Linked DNA regions of Homo sapiens. The protein of the gene in region 1 purifies or fractionates together with the protein of each later gene. This does not show direct contact. Each region holds a gene or a part of one and is shown in the gene's direction. Other genes may lie near its edges.

Evidence for each region.
Region 2: the proteins of KBTBD7 (region 1) and LLGL1 purify together in Homo sapiens (co-immunoprecipitation; 5 studies listed by BioGRID and IntAct, with this or other methods). This does not show direct contact.
Region 3: the proteins of KBTBD7 (region 1) and ERC1 purify together in Homo sapiens (co-immunoprecipitation; 5 studies listed by BioGRID and IntAct, with this or other methods). This does not show direct contact.

The regions. Positions count from the first base shown.
Region 1 is NC_000013.11:41,192,805-41,196,556, reverse strand, and holds the start of KBTBD7 (kelch repeat and BTB domain-containing protein 7), read left to right. Parts: upstream 1-1,987; 5' UTR 1,988-2,299; coding exon 2,300-3,752. UniProt on the Homo sapiens protein: As part of the CUL3(KBTBD6/7) E3 ubiquitin ligase complex functions as a substrate adapter for the RAC1 guanine exchange factor (GEF) TIAM1, mediating its 'Lys-48' ubiquitination and proteasomal degradation.
Region 2 is NC_000017.11:18,242,635-18,245,527, forward strand, and holds the end of LLGL1 (lethal(2) giant larvae protein homolog 1), read left to right. Parts: intron 1-108; coding exon 109-187; 3' UTR 188-188; intron 189-1,273; coding exon of another isoform or gene 1,274-1,415; 3' UTR 1,416-2,241; downstream 2,242-2,893. Other genes in the region: FLII (protein flightless-1 homolog), read right to left, coding at 2,504-2,785. UniProt on the Homo sapiens protein: Cortical cytoskeleton protein found in a complex involved in maintaining cell polarity and epithelial integrity. Involved in the regulation of mitotic spindle orientation, proliferation, differentiation and tissue organization of neuroepithelial cells.
Region 3 is NC_000012.12:1,022,170-1,025,921, forward strand, and holds part of ERC1 (ELKS/Rab6-interacting/CAST family member 1), read left to right. Parts: intron 1-3,752. UniProt on the Homo sapiens protein: Regulatory subunit of the IKK complex. Probably recruits IkappaBalpha/NFKBIA to the complex. May be involved in the organization of the cytomatrix at the nerve terminals active zone (CAZ) which regulates neurotransmitter release.

The DNA.
Region 1 (3,752 bases):
GGCTGGCAACACAGTGAGACCCTGTCTATAATTTTTTTTTAATTAACTGGGTGTGGTGGTATGCATCTATAGCTCTAGTTACTTGGGAGGCTGAGGGCAAAGTATTGCTTGAGCACTGGAGTTTGAGGCAGCAGTGAGCTATTATGGTGCCACTGCACTCCAACCTGGGTGACAGGGCAAGACCCCATCTCAAAAAAAAAAAAAAAAAAGAAAAAAAAAAGGCTTTTTTCCCCAGCTGGTATTCACTGCAAGTCAGGAAACAATCATTGTTACTGATAATGACTGACTTGATTCTCTCTGGTGTATCTGAGGGATATCTAACATCTCTTTTTATTTACAGAGGAGTTATTAGAGCCCAGAGGCTGACTTAATTTAATGTGTCTACCCTAGAGTATTTCCAGTGGACTTCAGCTGATAAGTTGAAGTTATCTTCAGCTGATAAGAGAAAAACAATTTGAAAGTTATTCTCTTGTAATGTGTTATCCATACATGCATGTAACACTGATGATTTTCTTTATTAGGTTATGGTAACATAACAAACTAGCAGCAGGAGCAGTCATGGTTTTGTAATAAAAGTTATCTGAAAAAGTCTGTTACTGGTGGAGGGTGTCCAGGTTCTTGGCGTTTTGGACAAAAAATTGGACAAAACACATAAACAAAGCAAGGAAACAATGAAACAACAAAAGCAGAGATTTACTGAAAATGAAAGTACACTCCACAGTGGGGAGCGGGCCTGAGCATAGGGGCTCAAGGGCCCTGTTACAGAATTTCTGAAGGTTTAAATACCCTCTAGAGGATTCCACTGGTTACTTGGTGTACACCCTATGTAAATGAAGAGAATGAAGTAAAGTTACAAACTCATTTACTCAGCATACACCCTATGGAGAGGATCTTTCCTGTTATAGCTAAAGTGTGAATCAGCCTTATGTTCCCTGCCTCCAGACCCTATTTTCCTGCCTCAAATCTCTAATACTTGATTTTGATGATTTAACTGTTGATCCCAATGCAAATATAAAAGACTTTGTAAAGCATAGACTATACTATATATTAATTCAAGGAATGTCAGGGCATGTACTGATGTTGAATTCTGAGAATCATGTGCTTTTGTACAGAACAAAGTCTGTTTGTTGAAATATTTTGAGTTAAAATACTCCCTAAAACTCCTTAATAAAGGGAATTACATAATCTGTTAATTGATTTGTGGAACGGCAGTGAAAGAGGCTGTATTAGACGACTTGAAAACACTCATATTTGGAGCTTAACGAAAATACTCCTGCTCTCCAGAGATGAAATGTTAGTGAGAGCAGCAAATAATTTATTTTTATATGCTGGATTTGCGTATTTGAGACCATCTATTAATACTGTTCTTTAGGACCTCAACCTAGTCGTCTAAGACATCCTTATTAAACGAGACCAATAGATATCATTTAATATTGAAAATATTGTTAATGCCCTTCAAAATCTTTCGAAGGAATAAACATTAAAAACTAGAAATTCTTTGTAAAATTTTGCGGTTTAAAATAATACTCGGTTTCAAATTAGTGGGTGCCTCATTTATCATAAATTATAAAAGAGAATCTAACAGTTATTGGCTACATTCTAGGCACGGGGTAACGCTTTACTATTCTTCTAACCAAAAACATACATGTATCTAAGTATCCCATGTAAGGTATCATTGAACCACACAAAACCCTATGAAATACTGGCAGGGGGCGGTGGCTCACGCCTGTAATCCCAGCACATTGAGAGGCCGAGGCAGGAGGATAATTTGAGCCCTCAGGAGTTCAAGACCAGCCTGGGCAACAGTCTCTTCACCATCAAATCCAGGAGAATTAATTTCTACTGTTAGAGCAGTCAACTAAAGGACAGCTCGCGATATTACACAAACTACTACTCCCAACATGCAAAGCGGTTTCTTTCCCTCTGTCCCCGCCCGGCCGTCCGAGAGCCCCAGCAGGCCTCGGGGCGCGAAAGGCAACCTGGGAGCAGTAGTTCTCCCGGGCGCCTAGCGGGATCGCCAGCGCGGCAGTGGGGGCTTCCGCGGCTGCAAGCCAGCGGGTCCTGTGAGGGCGAGCGGAGGCGGAGAAAGGGCGCGGGAGTGAGAGAGGGTGAGTCAGCCACTGTCTATGCAATAAAGGGAGGCCTCACCGCGGGATAGGGCTGAATTCAGAAGTGCGGCCCGTGCCGCAGTCTGTTCCAGGACGCGGCTTGTCTTAGCGTCAGCGAGGGAAGGTTGAGGAGGAGCCAGAGCCTGGTCCTGCAGCCTTTCTCGCCGTCAGCGCCCGTCGCCATCTCCACCATGCAGTCCCGGGAAGACGTCCCGCGCTCTCGCCGCCTCGCCAGTCCCCGTGGTGGGAGGCGGCCCAAGAGGATTTCCAAGCCCTCGGTTTCGGCCTTTTTCACGGGTCCAGAGGAGTTAAAGGACACGGCCCATTCTGCAGCCCTGCTGGCACAGCTCAAGTCCTTCTACGACGCGCGGCTGCTGTGTGATGTGACCATCGAGGTGGTGACGCCTGGCAGCGGGCCTGGCACGGGTCGCCTCTTTTCCTGCAATCGCAACGTGCTAGCAGCTGCGTGTCCCTACTTCAAGAGCATGTTCACAGGTGGCATGTACGAGAGCCAGCAGGCCAGCGTGACCATGCACGATGTGGACGCCGAGTCCTTCGAGGTGTTGGTCGACTACTGCTACACGGGTCGTGTGTCTCTCAGTGAGGCCAATGTGCAGCGCCTGTACGCGGCCTCCGACATGCTACAGCTGGAATATGTGCGGGAAGCCTGTGCCTCCTTCTTAGCCCGACGTCTTGACCTGACCAACTGCACCGCCATCCTCAAGTTTGCAGACGCCTTCGACCATCACAAGCTTCGATCTCAGGCCCAGTCCTACATAGCTCACAACTTCAAGCAGCTCAGCCGAATGGGTTCAATTCGGGAGGAGACTCTAGCAGATCTAACCCTGGCCCAGCTGCTGGCTGTCCTACGCCTGGATAGTCTGGACATAGAGAGTGAGCGGACTGTATGCCATGTAGCTGTGCAGTGGCTGGAGGCTGCTGCCAAAGAGCGGGGTCCCAGTGCTGCAGAAGTCTTCAAGTGCGTGCGCTGGATGCACTTCACTGAAGAAGATCAGGACTACTTAGAAGGGCTGCTGACCAAGCCCATCGTGAAGAAGTACTGCCTGGACGTTATTGAAGGGGCCCTGCAGATGCGCTATGGTGACCTGTTGTACAAGTCTCTGGTGCCAGTGCCAAACAGCAGCAGCAGCAGTAGCAGCAGCAACTCTCTTGTATCTGCAGCAGAAAATCCACCCCAGAGACTGGGTATGTGTGCCAAGGAGATGGTGATCTTCTTTGGACATCCTAGAGATCCCTTTCTCTGCTATGACCCTTACTCGGGGGACATTTACACAATGCCATCCCCTTTGACCAGCTTTGCTCACACTAAGACTGTCACCTCCTCAGCTGTCTGTGTGTCCCCAGACCATGACATCTATCTAGCTGCTCAGCCCAGGAAAGACCTCTGGGTGTATAAACCAGCTCAGAATAGTTGGCAGCAACTTGCAGATCGCTTGCTGTGTCGTGAGGGCATGGATGTGGCATATCTCAATGGCTACATCTACATTTTGGGGGGACGAGACCCTATTACTGGAGTTAAGTTGAAGGAAGTGGAATGCTACAGTGTTCAGAGAAACCAGTGGGCATTGGTGGCTCCTGTCCCTCATTCCTTCTATTCCTTTGAACTCATAGTGGTTCAGAACT
Region 2 (2,893 bases), on another chromosome or scaffold:
CTGGTGGGCAGGTCCACAGGGGGGGCTGCCCTGTCCCCTAGGCCTCCGTCCCCAGGGCTGCCAGGGGCTCCCCCGCCCCCACCCCTGAGCACCATCCCCATCTCGCAGCTCCTCTGAGGAGTCAGAGAAGAACCTGAGGAACCTGGCAGAAGACGAGGCCCACGCCTGTGCCATCCTGATCAAATGAGGTGCTGCAGGGGTGGGGCCCTGGTCCTCACCACTGGTGACGTCCACCCCCTTCAGCCCGTCTGGGTACCATTTGGCCCTGGTCTTCTACCTGAGACCCTGGCAGGCCCATGTGATGGCACTCTCTGAAACCTGGCTGCCTTCCATGGAGTGCCTCAATTGGGGACTTCTGGTGCTCACACAGACACCAGTGTCATGGTTGGGTATTAGAAAAGCAGGGCCAGCCCCTCAGCCCTTGCATGTGACAGGTGGTGGTTAGGACAAGACCAGATTTGTTTTGTTTTGTTTTGTTTTGTTTTGTTTTTGAGACGGAGTCTTGCTCTGTCGCCCAGGCTGGAGTGCAGTGGCGTGATCTTGGCTCACTGCAACCTCTGCCTCCTGGGTTCATGCCATTCTCCTGCCTCAGCCTCCTGAGCAGCTGGGACTACAGGCGCCCGCCACCACACCCAGCTAATTTTTTGTGTTTTTAGTAGAGACGGGGTTTCACTGTGTTAGCCAGGATGGTCTCGATCTCCTGACCTCATGATCCACCCGCCTCGGCCTCCCTAAGTCCTGGGATTACAGGCGTGAGCCACCGCACCCGGCCAACAAGACCAGATTAAACCACTTAGAGGTGGCAGTAGTTTGGGGCTTGGGAGCTGGTTTGGCCAGCCTGTTTCATAGATGAGATCACTGAGGTGCACGAGGTCAGGTCTCATCGGTTGGGCCCAGCAAGTGGCTGACTTACCCCTGCCTGAGTCTGTGGATCCTCACCTAGATGTGGGGCCCATAGATCTGCCCAGCGCATTTGCTGCCTCATGTTCCCAGGCACCTGACTGTAGGCCATAGCCTCACCCTGCACAGGACATGGACACCTCCCAGCTCTTTGTCTGGTGCCTCTCCCTGGCCTCAGTGGGGCATATGTGGCCTGGCGCTTGGATACCCATCTGGAGACTCAGCAAGCCCATCTCAGGTGGTCACTGAAGGGCCATGCCTGCCCTGCAGAGGAGACAGTGGCAGCACCTGTGTGGTCTGGCCGCTGTGGCAATCCATCTGCCCTTTTGCCCTCCCTCACCTTCTGCTGATACCTCTTCTCTCCCTCTTCCAGGAAGGCCAGAACTATCCCGACCTCCACCTGCCCTGCTCGGAGCTGGAGTGCTGGATCCCTGGCACCTGCCTGGCCCCTTAACATAGAACCACGCCTGCTAACCTGTAGGCTCCACTGGGACCTGCTGTCCTGTCCCGCCTGACCCTGGGCCCTGGAGCAGCACCAGCCCCAGGGTGTGGGCCTGGGACCTGGGCCAGAACTGAGCCCTCCTGCAGGCATTTGGCTGCCCTGGGGGCCCACTGCCTAGGGAAGAGGACAGGTGGGGCCCAGCACCTGTGCCACCTCCCCCCCTCCACACACCATCCTTCCCCCTCACTTTGCAGAGTATTTTTCCTTTTTTTTTTTTTTCTTAAAGACGGAGTCTTGCTCTGTCGCCCAGGCTGGAGTGCAGTGGCCCCATCTCTGCTCACTGCAAGCCCCGCCTTCTGGGTTCCCGCCATTCTTCTGCCTCAGCCTCCCAAGTAGCTGGGACTACAGGCGCCCACCACCACGCCCAGCTAATTTTTTCTGTATTTTTAGTAGAGATGGGGTTTCACCATGTTAGCCAGGATGGTCTCGATCTCCTGACCTCGTGATCCACCCACCTCAGCCTCCCAAAGTGCTGGGATTACAGGCGTGAGCCACCATGCCCAGCCCTGCAAAGAGTATTTTTCTAGCGCCTGGGCTGGACAGTTGTTTCTAAAACTAAACTATTTTGGTACCTGCTTCTGGGCCAGTCCCCAGCCTGTCATGAGTGTGTGTGTGCGGGCATGGATGTGACTGGGAGCTCTGCTGGGCACCCACATCTGGGGCCTAGTCAGGTGTGTGTGTCCGGCGGGGGGGGGGGGCAGGGGGGGGGGTCAAGATGAGTTTCCCTGTAGATTGTACCTTGGGGTTTTTTTCTGTCGTTTTGTTAAAATTAGCGCCATTTTAATATTAAAAATACTGATTTTTAATATTGAAAATAAAAGCATTTAATATCTCTTAAAGGGCATCCACATCTGCTTTATCCCTAGCGGAAGAGTGAGGGGGCTTCACACGTGCACTCACACTGTGGAGAGAGTTGGATTTCCCAGACCCCTGAGGGCACCTGTCAGGGTCATCCCCATTGGTGCTGCTTGAGGCTACTGGGGACTGTGGCACTGGACGTGGCTGGAGCAGGTGGTGTCACCTGAGTACATTCTTTGCTAGCAGACAGTGGATGAGGCCCCTTCCTCTTCCTCACCAAGCCTGGGGCTGTGCCAGCCTGTCTTAGGCCAGGGCCTTGCAGAAGGCGCTCCAGGCGTGGAAGCAGCGGGTAAAGGCGTGCTGCTCATTGCCCTTGCGGACCAGGCGCAGCCGGCGCGGCCGCTCATGTTCCTTGGACCGCATGTGCTGGATATATACCTGGCAAGGGGACAGCGAGCCTTGGGTGATGACCCTGCCCTGCCCACAGGCCCACCTCGGCCCTCCCTCCACCCAGATTACCTGGCAGGCCTTCAGGCTCAGCTTGATCTCCACCTGGCTAGTCTGGGTCCCCACCCACATGTAGACCTGTGGGGGCAGCAGGGGAGATACGGTTGCATGGGTGCCTGGGAACAGCCCCTTGCTCCTGGCCCGAGAATTCCCATTTGTAAGTAAGTCTATGGGCGCCTCCTTGGA
Region 3 (3,752 bases), on another chromosome or scaffold:
GTCTCCCAAAGTGCTGGGATTACAGGCACAGGCTATTGTGCCTGGCCAAGAAGTACATTTTATATTGTGATCCAGTATGCACATGTGCATGCATATGCACACCTGAAACATTGCAGAAAACAATACTGTTATCTCTTGTTGCATTACAATTACTTCAGAACTTACTGGATTTGAAAAACAAACATCTCAGATTTCATGAAGAGTGTGTTGGGTGATTCTGGCTCAGGGTATGTAGTGATTTTATTTCATTTAAAACAAACAAGAAAACAAGCTTGGTTGCAGCTTATCAAGCTGATTTCACAACCTACTATTGGGTCATAATTCTAAGTTTGAAAAACACTGACTGGGGACTGTTACCGTTTGGCTGTGTCCCCAGCAATCTCATCTTGAATTGTAGTTCCCATAATCCCTACATGTTGTGGAGGGACCTGGTGGTAGCTGAATCGTGGGGTCGGTTACCCCATGCTGTTCTGATAGTGAGTGCTCACGAGATCGATTTTATTTTTTCTTTTTTGAGACAGAGTCTTGCTCTGTCACCCAGGCTTGAGTGCAGTGGCATAATCTTGGGTCACTGAAACCTTTGCCTCCTGGGTTCAAGTGAGCACGTCTGGGTAATATTTGTATTTTTAGTAGAGATAGGGTTTCACCATGTTGGCCAGGCTGGTCTTGAACTCCTGACCTCAAGTGATCCACTGACCTTGGCCTCCCAAAGTGTTGGGATTACAGGCGTTAGCCACCGCGCCCAGCCTAGATCTGATGGTTTTGTAAGGGGCTCTTCCCCCTTTGCTTGGCACTTCTTCCTGCCGCCATGTGAAGAAGGATGTGTTTGCTTCCCCTTCTGCCATGATTGTAAGCTTCTTGAGGCCTCCCCAGCCCTGCAGAACTGTGAGTCAATTAAACCTCTTTCTTTTATAAATTACCCAGTCTTATGGGTAGTTCTACATAGAGCTTGAGAATGGACTAATACAGGACTCTGAGGCTAGAGGCAGGCAGTCAGGTTAGAAAGTTGTTTTAATTCAGGTAGGATAGGATGGCATAAACCAAGGTAATAATTGTGGGAATGGAGGAAGAGGATCAATTTAAGAGGTACCTAGAAATCAAAGCAACAGGAATTGTATTGTTTTGATAATATGTGTGTATATGGAGTATGAAGATTTTGGGAGGACTCTCAGGCTCTGGCTTGAGCAGCTGATGTTATTCATGTGAATAGATGTTGTCCACTACCATGTTCTTTTTTTGATTTTTTTTTTTTCCCCTGCAGCAGCAGGTTTGGTTTTGGAATGGGGAGACCTTGATACGGAGTTCAGTTTGGGGGCATGGTGTATTTGAGGTGCATGTGAGGAGTATAAGTGAAGATGTCCAGAAGTGGGATACATAGTTTTGATTCTCAAAGGAGAAGTAAAAAAGTACTGGAGAAGTAGTGAATTTGGAGTCTTTGTTGTACATATGTTATTTTAAGCTGGTGGAGGCAGGGAGAAAGGATTTCTTAAGGATGATATTGTAGTGTGAGAATAACATAGGGATGAAGATCAGAAACATTTAAGGGAGGAACGAACAAAGAAGGAGGAGGGTTAGAAGAAAAGAGCATATGATATAAAGAAACCAAGAGAGGAGAGTGTCAAAAAATTGGGAGTGCTTAAGAAACAAGATGTATTATAGACAGAAGTTAAAAAGGCATTAGAGAGGAAAAGTGTTCATTAACTAAGGTTTCTCTGGAGAAGCCAGAGGGAATGGGGACTAAAGTACCCTGTGGAAGGATTAGCTGTAGCCCACTTCCATCAGAATAGAGGAAGTTAAGGATGGTTGTTGCTGTCAATGAACATGTGGAGAGAGAAAGTTGAGATAGTTCCTGTTTGATTTCTTTGTTTCTCTCTTATGTAGGAGATGAGATACGTAAATTTGATAGGGCTGCTGTAAGAAAGTACCATCAGCTGGGCACGGTGGCTCACGCCTGTAATCCCAGTACTTTGGGAGGCTGAGGCAGGCGAATCCGTTGGGCCCAGGAGTTCGAGACCAGACTGGGCAACATGGTGAAACCCCACCTCTACCAAAAATACAAAAATTAGCTGGGTGTGCTGATGCTCGCCTGTAGTCTCAGCTACTCGGGTGGCTGAGGTGGGAGAAGTGCTTGAGCCTGGGAGGTTGAGGCCACGGTGAGCTGTGATTGTACCACTGCACTCCAGCCTGGGTGACAGAGGAGACCTTGTCTCAACAAACAAAAACACAAAACATCTCCCGCCTCTCCACCCCGCTCCCCCCACAGGTTTGAAACCACCTGCCTGTTATTTCAAACCACCTGTGTGTTCACATTTTTGAGGACTTTTAACCTGTTTGACCAGAATAGATACTGTCTTTAGAATCTCATTTTTGACAATATGATTTACTTGGTACTGTTTTCAATGAAGAAACACTTATAAGAATCAATTTACATAACAATGGATTTTGGGAAAATATTGTTTAATATGCTGAAGCCTGTTGTTACTTGACCTAAGCCAATGCTTTGAAATGATGCTAGGAAATCAGAGAGATCTAGTTTAGATCTATATTGTCTTTGAAAGAAGTCTATAAAGTTGATAGCTATAGTTTAGTGGGTTCTGCATCCACAGCTCAAACCACCTGTGGACCAAAAATATTTGGGAAAGAATCTTAAAGTCACCTTGAAAAAAAAAGTGGAAAAAAAAAAAAAAAGAAAATACTTGGGAAAAAATAATACAACATGGAAAAATAATACAAATAAAAAACACAATAAGTATAACAACGATTTACATAGCATCTACATTTTATTAAGTATTATAAGTAATTTAGAGATGATTTAAAGTATGCTGGAGGATATCCATAGGTTTTATGCAATTACTGTGTCATTTTGAATCAGGGACTTGAGCATCCTGGGATTTTTGTTGTCTGGGGCAGTCTTGGATATCTGGATACGTTCTACTGGAGCCAGTCCCCAGCAGATACCAAGGGACAACTGCCTGTGGTTTTAAAATTTGTTTTAGTTATACTTGTAGAGTATGAACATGTTTTCTTTTTTGAAAAAAAAATTCAGGTGCTTTATGGTAGTTTGAGTGTAAAGCTTTCTAAGTTGAGCTAAAGCCTCCACAAACATTTTTCCCCTTTATAACACAAGTTTCCTTCCCTCTAATTATCGCTGTTTCAAAATTGGCATTTCCCGTGTAGGAATTCTTTACATACTCTGTTTACAGATCATTATACTTATGTTCACTGTATTTTTCACCTAGCTTTTGGTTTATCTTTTAATTTTATTTACAGCATTTTTTGGTATAATACTTTGTCATTTTGACATAATTAAGTGTGTTGGTTGTTTTTCTTTATGGTTTTTGCTTCTGGTTTTTTATTTAAGAAGCCTTTTCCTAACTCAAGTTCACAAGGATATTCTTCAAAATTTTCTTCTAGTACTTTTAATGGCTTAAAAAATTTATATCTTTAATGTATATGGAATTTATTTTGGTGTACTATGTGAAGACGAGTATACGTTATGTTTCTCAAAGAGCAACAAGTATTTAAACTTCATTTATTGAGTGATTTTTCATTTCCTCACTGTATTAGTCTGTTCTCATGTTGCTAATACAGACATACCCGAGACTAGGTAATTTAAAAAGGAAAGTTTTTTTTTTTTTTTTTTTTTGAGACGGAGTCTCGCTCTTGTCACCCAGGCTGGAGTGCAGTGGCGCGATCTCGGCTCACTGCAATGTCTGCCGCCTGGGTTCAAGCTTCTTATGCCTCAGCCTCCT